Linked DNA regions of Homo sapiens. The protein of the gene in region 1 interacts with the protein of each later gene in a pairwise test. Each region holds a gene or a part of one and is shown on either strand. Other genes may lie near its edges.

What was found.
Region 2: the proteins of PTPRN (region 1) and SPTBN4 interact in a two-hybrid assay, tested with the Homo sapiens proteins (one study listed by BioGRID and IntAct).

Annotation. Positions count from the first base shown.
Region 1 is NC_000002.12:219,288,932-219,292,506, forward strand, and holds the end of PTPRN (receptor-type tyrosine-protein phosphatase-like N isoform 1 precursor), read right to left. Parts: intron 2,593-3,575; coding exon 2,539-2,592; intron 1,960-2,538; coding exon 1,895-1,959; intron 1,681-1,894; coding exon 1,607-1,680; intron 1,367-1,606; coding exon 1,295-1,366; 3' UTR 692-1,294; downstream 1-691. UniProt on the Homo sapiens protein: Plays a role in vesicle-mediated secretory processes. Required for normal accumulation of secretory vesicles in hippocampus, pituitary and pancreatic islets.
Region 2 is NC_000019.10:40,511,894-40,519,189, reverse strand, and holds part of SPTBN4 (spectrin beta chain, non-erythrocytic 4), read right to left. Parts: intron 6,585-7,296; coding exon 5,636-6,584; intron 3,880-5,635; coding exon 3,742-3,879; intron 1-3,741.

The DNA.
Region 1 (3,575 bases):
GGGTCTCACTCTGTCACCCAGGCTGGAGTGCAGCGGCACACTCTCGGCTCACTGCAAACTCCACCTTCCGGGTTCAAGTGATTCTCCTGCCTCAGACTCCCAAGTAGCTGGGATTACAGGTACCCGCCACTACACATGGCTAATTTTTTTGTATTTTTAGTAGAGACAGGGTTTTGCCATGTTGGCCAGGCTGGTCTCGAACTCCTGACCTCAGGTGATATGCCTGCCTCAGCCACCCAAAGTGCTGGGATTACAGGCGCGAGCCACCATGGCCGGCTAATTTTGTATTTTTAGTAAAGACGGGATTTCTCCATGTTGGCCAGGCTGGTCTCCAACTCCTGACATCAGGTGATCTGCCTGCCTCAGCCTCCCAAAGAGCTGGGATTACAGGCATGAGCCATTGCACCTTACAATCTTACAAGTTGTGTTACGTGTTACCACAAGCAAGTTCTGTGCCTCAGTCTTTCCATCTGTAAAATGGGACTCATCATGTAAAGCACCTTGGAGACTGCTGGCTGCATAGGAAGCCTCGTTCTAACGTAGTGTTCCCACCTAGAAGGGCCTTACTGGCAGCTGGCGCTCTCCTGCTGTGCTCTCTGCACCTCCTGAGAGACCAGCAGGGACCGGCTCCGGGCTGAGGCTGGGGCTGGAGTCCAGATGCACAGCGGACAGAAATGCGTAGGAGTCTGGGTTGCAGCTGCACAGACAACACACTAACTTTATTCACACTGGTACAAAAGTAGTTTTTTCTAGAAATGTTCTCTTGCGCCAGAAGGAGAGAGGTTGAGCAGCGCATGGTGGGAGGGTGGTGGGAGGAGGCTGGGCGTGAGGCCAGGGAGGGCAGAGCGCCCAAGTGTGAGTCAGAGGCAGGCCCGGGGCTGAGAAGCAGGGGGAGCCGGGTGTGGCGACCCTCCACCCCATTCTTCCATACTGGAGCATAGGGGGACACACACAGATGTTCAGGGAACTCCCAGAACCCCAGGAGAGCTACAGGAGAGCCAGGCCAGGGAATGTAGGCAGGAGAAGGCTCTGGGTAGAATTGCTACCCATGTCCTTTCCTCTCCTCCTGGCTGCAGCACCCCCATGGGATGCCCTGGGCTCTGGGATGCCCCAGGCTCTGGCATGCGAGGCTGGGCAGGCGTGCCCCTTCTGGCTTTCCCTTCCTGACTCTTCTAGGAAGGGCTGAGCATGCCCAAGAGGTGGCTGGTGGGGCAGTGAGGAGTGGGTACACAGAGATGCTCACACAGGCAAAGAGGGACAGAGGCTGGGCTGCCCGCCAAGGGGCCCCAGGGTCTCACTGGGGCAGGGCCTTGAGGATGGCATTCACTTCCTCCGCCACGGCTGTCAGGGCAAATTCAAACTGGTCCTGAGGAAGGGCAGTGGTAGGATGGTCATGGAGAGGGCTGACCTGTGCTCTGCCCTCAAGATGGGGGGCTTTTGGTGGGGGGAGGGCCCTGGGCAGGTCCCCTGGGAGGAAGGGAGCCCTCCTGGAGGAGGCGCAGAAGCAGGTGGGAAAGGTTGGCAGCTGCTGCTTTCCCTGGGGTGGCCAAGAAGTGGGTGCTAGGGAAGGGTGGGAGCTGGGGTTGGGGCAGGAAGGCATGGTCACCTTAGAGCGGACAAGGCCAGGCCGCTGGTCACGGACATGCTCCAGGGTGGCAGCGATGTCAATCTCCTTCACTCCTGGAGATGGAGGTGGGGATGGGGCTGCTCAGGGGGTGTCCAGAGGAGGACAGGACCCAGAAAACCTGAGGCCTCCTGGAGGCAAAGAGCCTTGGAGGGCTGGGCAGAGCCTGGAGGTTGACAACCTGCTCCTTCTGAGCTCCCAGGACCCTGTGTGCTGGGGAGCCTCTAAAAAGGGCCTGGGGGCTGCGGGCACCGTGGGGAAGCTCCCTACCTTTTGCCATGCGGTTCAGGACCATGTCGATGAGGATGTAGGTGCCGGTCCTCCCCGCACCATCACTGAAACAGGAGTTAGTGACAGGTTTAGCTTGAGATGCAGCAGAAAGGGGGAGGGACGGAGGAGGCGAGGAGGCCTGGAGGCCTGGGGGAGGGGAGGACACTGGGTGACCCGTTGGGGTTGGCTTGGAGAGGGACAGTGAGCCGAGGATGAAGGAAAGCTCATAGCACCTGCACGCTGGGACTTGGGCCTTGAGAGGGGAGTCTGTGACCTGTGGGTGTCATTTGGGCAATGGGACAACCAAAGAGGAGAGCCATGGCTCAGCCCAGAAGCAGAGGCAGCAGGAGGGAATTGGATGGGCCTCTCTAGCCTTCAGCCAGCTTTTTGTGTATAGGGGGCCAATGGTCAATATTTTCAACTTTGTGGGCCACATACAGTTTGTATCACATACTTTTCTTCTTTTTTCTTCACCCATTTAAAACTGTGAATGCCACGCTTAGGTCTTGGCCATTAAAAACAGGTGGTGTGCTGGATTTGGACTATGCCTGCAGTTTGCTAGCACCAAGGGGACAGGCAGGCAATGTGCACAGGAGACGCACACAGGGAGTGGGACCAGAGAGATGAATCTCCTCTCCACCCACCTGCAGTGCACGATGATGGGGCAGGAGCGGCCCCGGTAGCACTTGTTCACCTTCCTGCAACAAGAAATGGGTGTGAGGGCCAGTGGGCACCAGCAGAGAGGGAAAGGGAAGCTGAAACACATGACGTGGGCCTCTCTTTCTTCCTTTTCTCCCCACCTGCCCGGGGCAGAGAGGGAAGATGGTTGGAGAAAGGAGCCAGGGCTGGAGGCAAAGAACCAGAGCTGGTGTGGGTGGCATTGGGCTCGCCTTGTCACTTGCAAGCTAGGTGCCCAAGCTATGCACCTGGAACAACTGATTTAACCTCTTTGAGCCTCAGTTTTCTTACCTGTAAAATGGAGGATAGTAAGAAAAACCTCCTTAGGGTTCTTACAATGATCACATGAGATAACCCATGTAAAGAGCTAAGTGCTAGGTCTGGCACACAATAGGTGCTCAATACATGGTAGCAGGTGGCAACTATTAATGATAATACATCATCATATTAAGAGACACTTCTGCCCAAGTCCAAGGGGATAGCTTTCTGGTGACTTCAAGGGTGTCAGTCTTGCCACATCCCTGCTCTGGCCCTCTGCCATTCTTTATGACCACCCAGGCTGTTTTCCTCCCGACTCAGGCTCCAGTGGTCCTTACCAGTTGTGACATCAGGCTGCCCTGGGCATAGTGTTCCCTGGGCCAGGGGAGGACAACCCCAACCCCTCAACTCGGGACATTGTGCTACTGCTTGTCTCCCTGGAGCAGTCTCACTTCAGCACAGGCATTCTGTGGCTGCGTTATATTCAGACTTGGGGTCCCCTTGGACCTCAGACCTTTCTCCACTGCCCCTGACCACAACTCAGTGAGGAGCAGGGGGCTTCTCCGTCTCTCAATGGACCCATCTAACCTGCCCTTGTCCTTTATGACCTTTCTGCTTTGGGAGTCACCTGCATACTCCTGATATCCCTGCAAGCCAGAACCAGGGAAGACCTTCTTAGGGGTTGTCAGATTGAAGTTTGGAACTTCACAGTCCTTCAGCTATAGGACCAGGTGACTTAGAATGG
Region 2 (7,296 bases), on another chromosome or scaffold:
AACTATCTTCATAAAAATGTGTTAAGACGCCATTTGCTTTTTCACTCTCATTCTTTCCCGAGTGTTCAGTGGAGTTTTCCAGAGGCGGCAGGAGAGACTGAGAGCAGAAGCCGACTCTGATTTAAGAGAAGCCCAGCTGCCATCTCTTAAACCAGACTTTAAAGAGATTTGCAAAGGTACGAAACAATGCCACTCTTAGTACATTTTGTGTTATGAAAAGTTATTTTTAATAAAAAAGTTATATTAACACGTTAGATATTTAGATTTAAAAAAATTTTTTTAAGACGTGAGATCTCACTATGTTGCCCAGGCTAGAACGCAGTGGCTATTCATGAACTCGTTTATGGCACACTGAAGCCTCCAATTCGCAGGCTCAAGCGGTCCTCCCACCTCAGCCTCACAGGTCTAACAGGCACGCACCACTCCCAGTGTATTGTTATTTTTAAATAATGTTTTCAAATTTCTCAGCCGGGTGCAGTGGTTCACACCTGTAATCCCAGCACTTTGGAAGACGGAAGCAGGTGGATCGCTTGAGCTCAGGAGTTGGAGAGCAGCCTGGGCAACATGGTGAGACTCCTAAAATACAAAAATTAGCTGGGCGTGGGGGTGCACACCTATGGTCCCAGCTACTTGGGAGGCTGAGATGGGAGGATTGCTGGAGCCTGCGAAGTCGAGGCTGCAGTGAGCCATGATTGTGCCACTGCACTCCAGCCTGGGTGACAGAGTAATGAGACCCTGTCTCAAAATAAATAAATAAAAATAAAAACATTTTAAATTTTCTCAGTACTAAGTTCTAATATAGTAAATAGCAATAGATATGACCCACTAAAACAAGCTCTTGGGGTCCTCAATAGTTTGGGTTTTTTAAATTTTGTTTTCTTTTTTAGACAGAGTCTTGCTCTGTTGCCCAGGCTGGAGTGCAGTGGCACGATCTCAGCTCACTGCAACCTCCGCCTCCCAGGTTCATGGGATTCTCCTGCCTCAGCCTCCCAAGTAGCTGGGATTACAGGCGTGCACCACCACACCCGGCTAGTTTTTATATTTTTAATAGAGATGGGGTTTCATCACATTGGCCAGGCTGGTCTCAAACTCCTGACCTCAAGTGATCTGCTTGCCTCGGCCTCCCAAAATGCTAGGATTACAGGCGTGAGCCACCATGCCCTGCCTGTTTCTTGCATAAAGCCATTATGATTCTCTAAATATCTTGTCCATTTATTAGTGTATTTAACTGTCTTTCTGCCCCCTCTAGAATGGACACACCATGAGGACAGAGATTAGGACTCTGAAATCAGGCAGACCCGAGTTCAAGTTCTGCTCTGGCCAGATTTGCCATGTGACCTTGGGCAAATCATTTCCTTCTCTGATCTTCAGTTTCCTCATCTGGAAAATGGGGATAATAAAGTCCACTTCATTGAGTGTGTAACGAGATCATGTGGCTAAAGCACTTGGCATATAGATCTCTCTACATGCTGTAAATCGTTATGATTGTAGTTATTTTTTTAGGCCTGGATGCTTTGCGATGGTCTTGGCTACAGAGGTTTTAAAATCCCTGGATATTGGAATCTTGCAGCACAGAGTCAAGAGCGTAGTCTTTGGGTGGGGCAGAGTGGCTCATGCCTGTAATTCCAGCACTTGCGGAGGCCAAGGCAGAAGATCACTTGAGCCCAGGAGTTCGAGACCAGTCTGGGCAACAGAGTGAGACCCCATCTGTACAAAAAATACAAAAATTAGCCGGGTGCAGTGGTGTGCATCCATAGTCCCACTACTCAAGAGGCTGAGGCAGGAGGATTTCTTGAGCTCGGGTCGGGGGCGGTGAAGGCTGTAGTGAGCCATGATCGTACCACTGCACTCCAGTCTGGGCGAAAGAGCAAGACCCTGTCTCAAGAAAGAAAAAAAAAAAAAGAGCACAGTCTTTGAAGTCAAACATATCCATCTTCAAAGCCCGGTTTGATCCCCTAACTTGCTGTGTAACCTTGGGCCTCCATCTTCGCCTCTCTGAGATCCAGTTTTCTCCTCTCTAATGTGGGGTAGTTTCCACCTCATAGTGTTACCAGGAAGACTGGATATATTAGATAAACAGCTACAGCTCAGGATTCAGCCAGAACTGTATTTGACTCCTACTTATAGACTGAGTAATCTTGGATAAGGAGTTCACCTTTTTGGACTTGTATCTTCATCTATGAACCCCACCTGCACTGGGAGAATTGCTGGTAGTATTCCAGAGGTACTGATATTAGTTTGTTACTTATCTTAAAGAGTTCTGGGCTAGGAGCAGTAGCTTACACTGTAATCCCAGCTCTTTGGAAGGCCAAGGTGGGAGGAGGCCAGGAGGTTTTTGTTTGTTTGTTTGTTTGTTTGTCTGTTTTGGTATAGATTCTTGCTCTGTCACCTAGGCTGGAGTGCAGTGGTGTGATCTTGGCTCACTGTAGCCTCTGCCTCCCGGGTTCAAGCAATTCTTCTGCCTCAGCCTCCTGAGTAGCTAGGACTACAGGCACATGCCACCATGCCCGGATAATTTTTGTATTTTTAGTAGAGATGGGGTTTCACCATATTGGTCAGGCTGGTCTCGAACTCCTGACCTCAGGTGATCCACCTGCCTTGGCCTCCCAAAGTGCTGGGATTACAGGTGTGAGCTACCACGCCCAGCCGAGCCCAGGAGTTGTAAGACCAGCATGGCCAACACAGTGAGACCCTGTCTCTACAAAAAAAATTTTTTTTAATTAGCTGGGCATGGTGATATGCACCTGTAGTCCCAGTTCCTCAGGAGGCAGAGGTGGGAGGATCGCTTGAGCCTAGGTGTTGGAGGCTGCAATGAGCCATGATCATGCCACTGTATTCCAACCTGGGCAACAGAGCAAGATCCTGTCTCAAAAGAGAGAGAGAGAGAGTTCTGAATTCTAGGATCTTTACTATGGAAATTGGGATATTGGGAATTTTTTTTTTTTTTTTTTTGAGACAAGGTCTGGCTCTATTGCCCAGGCTGGAGTGCAGTGGCACAATCTCTGCTCACTGCAATCTCTACCTCCTGGGCTCAAGGCATCCTCCCAACTCAGCCTCCCATGTAGCTGGGACTACAAATGTGCACCACCATGCTTGGCTAAATTTTGTATATATATATACATATATATAGTGTGTATATATATATACATATATATGTGTATATATACGTATATGTGTGTATATATACGTATATATGTGTATATATACGTATATATGTGTATATATACGTATATATGTGTATATATACGTATATATGTGTGTATATATATGTGTGTGTATATATATATTTTGTGTGTGTGTGTGTGTGTGTGTGTGTGCGCGCACGTAGAGAGAGAGACGGGGTTTCACCATGTTGCCCAGGCTGGTCTTGAATTCATGAGCTCAAGTGATCCACCCATCTCAGCCTCCTGAAGTGCTGGGATTACAGTATGAGCCACTGTGCCCGGAAGAATGTTGGGATACTTTAGAAAGGTATATAAAGTGCTTGGGAATACTCCTGGCAGATTGTAGATATCCAATACATTCTTTCTGGACAAATAAATGAACAGCCAACTGAAATGTTGTTTTAATTTTACCACGTCATCACCAGTATCAGGGATTATGATTTTTGGTCAACATTTTGTTGATTTATCGGGTGGCCATTATGATTCCAGGGGTTTGAGATTGCACATCTTGCTGTCCATGGCTGTGTGAGTGTGGAAGGGAAGGATGGGAGGGACTCCCAGCCCCAGGCCCTCCTACCTGCTGTTGAGGTGGTCCTGGCAGGAACGCACCTCATCTGAACTGGGGTGGCCTCCTTCCACCAGCTCCTGGACTGTGTGGTTCACGTCCAGAACGCGGCCCATCAGGCTGTTCATCTCTTGGTCCAGGCTCTCGAATCTGCAGGAGGATGGAGATGCTCAGACACCCGAACCCTGCGGACCTTGGTTTTATGAAATACCTTCTACTGGTTCTACTCCTAATTCTCAATCCACCCTTCTTTTCAGCCTCCTTTGTGGGCTCCTTCTCTTCTACTTGCTGCTTATTTTATTTAATTTAATTTAACTTATTTAATTTAATTTAATTAATTTATGTATGTATGTATTGAGACAGAGTCTCGCTCTGTCACCCAGGCTGGAGTGCAGTGGCGCGATTGTGGCTCACTGCAACCTCTGCCTCCCGGATTCAAGCGATTCTCATGTCTCAGCCTCCCATGTAGCTGGGATTACAAGCATGCGCCACCACGCCCAGCTAACTTTTCTATTTTTAGTAGAAACGGGATTTCACCATGTTAGCCAGGCTGGTCTCCAACTCCTGATCTTATATGATCCACCTGCCTTGGCCTCCCAAAGTACTGGGATTACAGGCGTGAGCCACCACGCCCAGCCTCTACCTGATGTTTAAATGTGAGATTCCTCAGCAGCAACTCCACCCTGAGCCCTCTGGGTTTTCCTTCACACCCTTCTTCAATGATTCCACCCAGCCCCACAGCCTTGGTCTTTGCCCCTGAACTCATGACAGTCACACCTCAGTCTCCAGCCTCAACCTCTTACCTTTTGAACCTGTCTTCGACCTCAAAGCCTACTGTATACCTTCTTGGGGCTATTCACACCCACCTGACTCAAATTTGTTCTTCCTCTGGGCCCCCATGTTGGGGACAGCACTGTCATCTGCCAGGCCAGAGCCCTGGGCTTTGTTTTGGAAAATCGCTCCAGCCCATCAGTCTCCATGGCCTGTTTACTTACCTCCCGCCCTGGTCTAATCTTGTTCCGCTCCATCTGGGTCCCCAGCCCAGTTGCCTCTCTGGGTTCCCAGCCACAACTCTTACCCGCTCCAACCTGCCCTCCACATGGCAGCCACTGAGGTCTACTTTAAGCTAGACATGGTCCTCCCATCTTTAAATCAATGTTTCAAAGAACTGGGCAACTGCAGGCACAGTAGGGGCAAGGAGCAGCCCTGTGTTTCCAGCAGTGCCCAGCACAAGACCTAGAAAGGCATAGGCACTCAGTAAACACCTGCTGAATGAATGTATGGATGAATAAGATGCTCAGACAGAGTGGTGCAGAGGGGGAATAGGCATTGTTCACCCACTAATTGAACAACTCATTGCTAAGTCAGCCAACAGACAAGTCAGTATACAATATGTCATGGGATGGTAAGTGCTACAAAGAAATGTAAAACAGGATGAAACAATGGAAAATCACAAGAGTCAGAGCTATTTTAGTAGCTAGGGAGGTGACATTTATGCAGAAGCAATGGGAGGCCTCCCAGCAGAGGGGCCAGGCTGAGGTGTCCCTGTAGAAGCATAGGTCGTTGATTTCATGCTTGGCGAATGTAAGCCTGGGTAACAAGAGCAAATGCTGGGGGAATGCTTCCTCTACCCCCAGGCATTTGCTTCGTATTCTGCATGTATGAACTCATTTACCGTTCATCACAAGCCTGGGTAGGGACTAATATCACCCCCATTATACAGGTGGGCAAGCTGAGGTTCAGGAAGATTAGGCAGGTTGCAGAACTGTCACAAAGCTGGCTATGGGTGAAGCAGGGATTGGAACTCCTAGTTCCAGCTGAGCAAACATGGGAACTGTTGAGCCAATGAAGGTGAGACTGGGTGCATGAGGAAGGGGACCCCGGAGTCCCACATGTGCGCGCTCACCGGTGCTGCACCACCTCGACGTCGTCGAGTGAATCCGGCACACGCATGGAGAGCAGCCATTGCTCCTTCTCGCCGATCCACAGCTCACACGCGTGCACCTCGCCAAACATGCGGTAGACAGCGAGCGCGTCCCGCAGCCACTGGCGCCTCAGCGCCGCCACTTCGGTCACCTCAGCGAACAACTGCTCTGCTTCCACCACGCGCACCTGCAGCGCCACCACCAGTGGCCCTGCGCCACTGGCACCCCCGAGTGTCGCCAGCTGGCGCCGCAGGCCGCTCACGGGCCCGCGATGTGCCTCCACCTCCCCGGTGAGCGCGCGGTGCTGGCGCGCCAGGCGGCGGCTGGAAGCTTCGTCGTGGCCGAAGTCACCGGCGGCTGCCAGGCGGTAAGCGTCGCGAAGCCAGTCCAGCAGCCCGTCGAGGTCAGCGCCGAACTGGTGCAGCGCCCGCGCCTCCTGCAGCCGCCGCTCTCGCCGCGCCGCCGCCTCTTCCAGCCTCTGCCAGCGGCGCCGGGCGCTCGCCGCGCGCTCCGCCAGGCCTACCAGGTGCACGGTGTCTGCTCCCGGGCCGACGGCACCGCCGGCCGCAACCAGCTCCTCGCCACACCGCAGGGCCTGCTGCAGCAACGCTCGCCGCCCGCCCAGCTCGCCCTGCAGGATCTTGTGCTGGGCCAGGAGGCGCGCTGTGCTGGACAGGTCATGCGCGCCGCCCGCTGTTCCCGCTGCGCCCGCTGCGCCCGCCGCACCGCCGCCGCCCGCAGCCTCCAGGAGACGCTCCTTGTCGCGCGCCCAGCTCTCGGCCTCCTCCAGCTCCTGCAGCAGCGCCCACAGGCTCCGCGAAGCCTCCAGCTCCGCGCGTCGCCGCGCTGCCTGCTCCTGCAGCTCCGCCAGGCAGCCGTGCACGTGGTTCACGCGGTTGCAGATGACCTGCGGGTCGCAGGGCTGGTAGCCTGAGCCAGGAGAAGGGGAGCATCCAGGATTGGTCACAAGCCAAGGGGCGCCCAAGAGAGGATGGTGCGGGCTACCTACCCTGTCCTTGGTGTGACTTCATCAGATGCCGGGTCACGTGGCTCCTCCTCCAGGCAGCCTTCCCTGACACCCCAAGGCTGGAGCAGGCTCCTCCTCGACCCTCTCAGGCTTCTCTGCTTCCCCATCCTAGCCCTGACTACTCTGTGTTGTCATTGCCTTGTCCTGTCTCCCCCACTGGACTGAGAGCTCCTTAAGGGCAGGACCTGGGTCTGTCACACCCTATCCCAAACACTGCCCAGCAAAGGGTGGAGCCCAGAGCTGTAGCCTAGTGAATGTAGTGATTTGTTGACTGAATGATGGATGGATTCAGAGCATCTCAGATTCTGTATATTTGAGTGAAAATTGTGCTTATGTCAGAACTGAGTCAAATGAAACTTCTTTGTTTTTTGTTTGTTTGTGTGTTTGAGACAGATTCTTACTCTGTTGCCCAGGCTGGAGTGCAGTAGCGCGATCTCGGTTCACTGCAACCTCCACCTCCAGGTTTAAGCGATTCTCCTGCCTCAGCCTCCCCAGTAGCTAGGATTACAGGCGCCCGCCACCACGCCTGGCTCATTTTTGTATTTTTAGTAGAGACGGGGTTTCACCATGCTGGCCAGGCTGGTCTCAAACTCCTGACCTCCAGTGATCCACCCG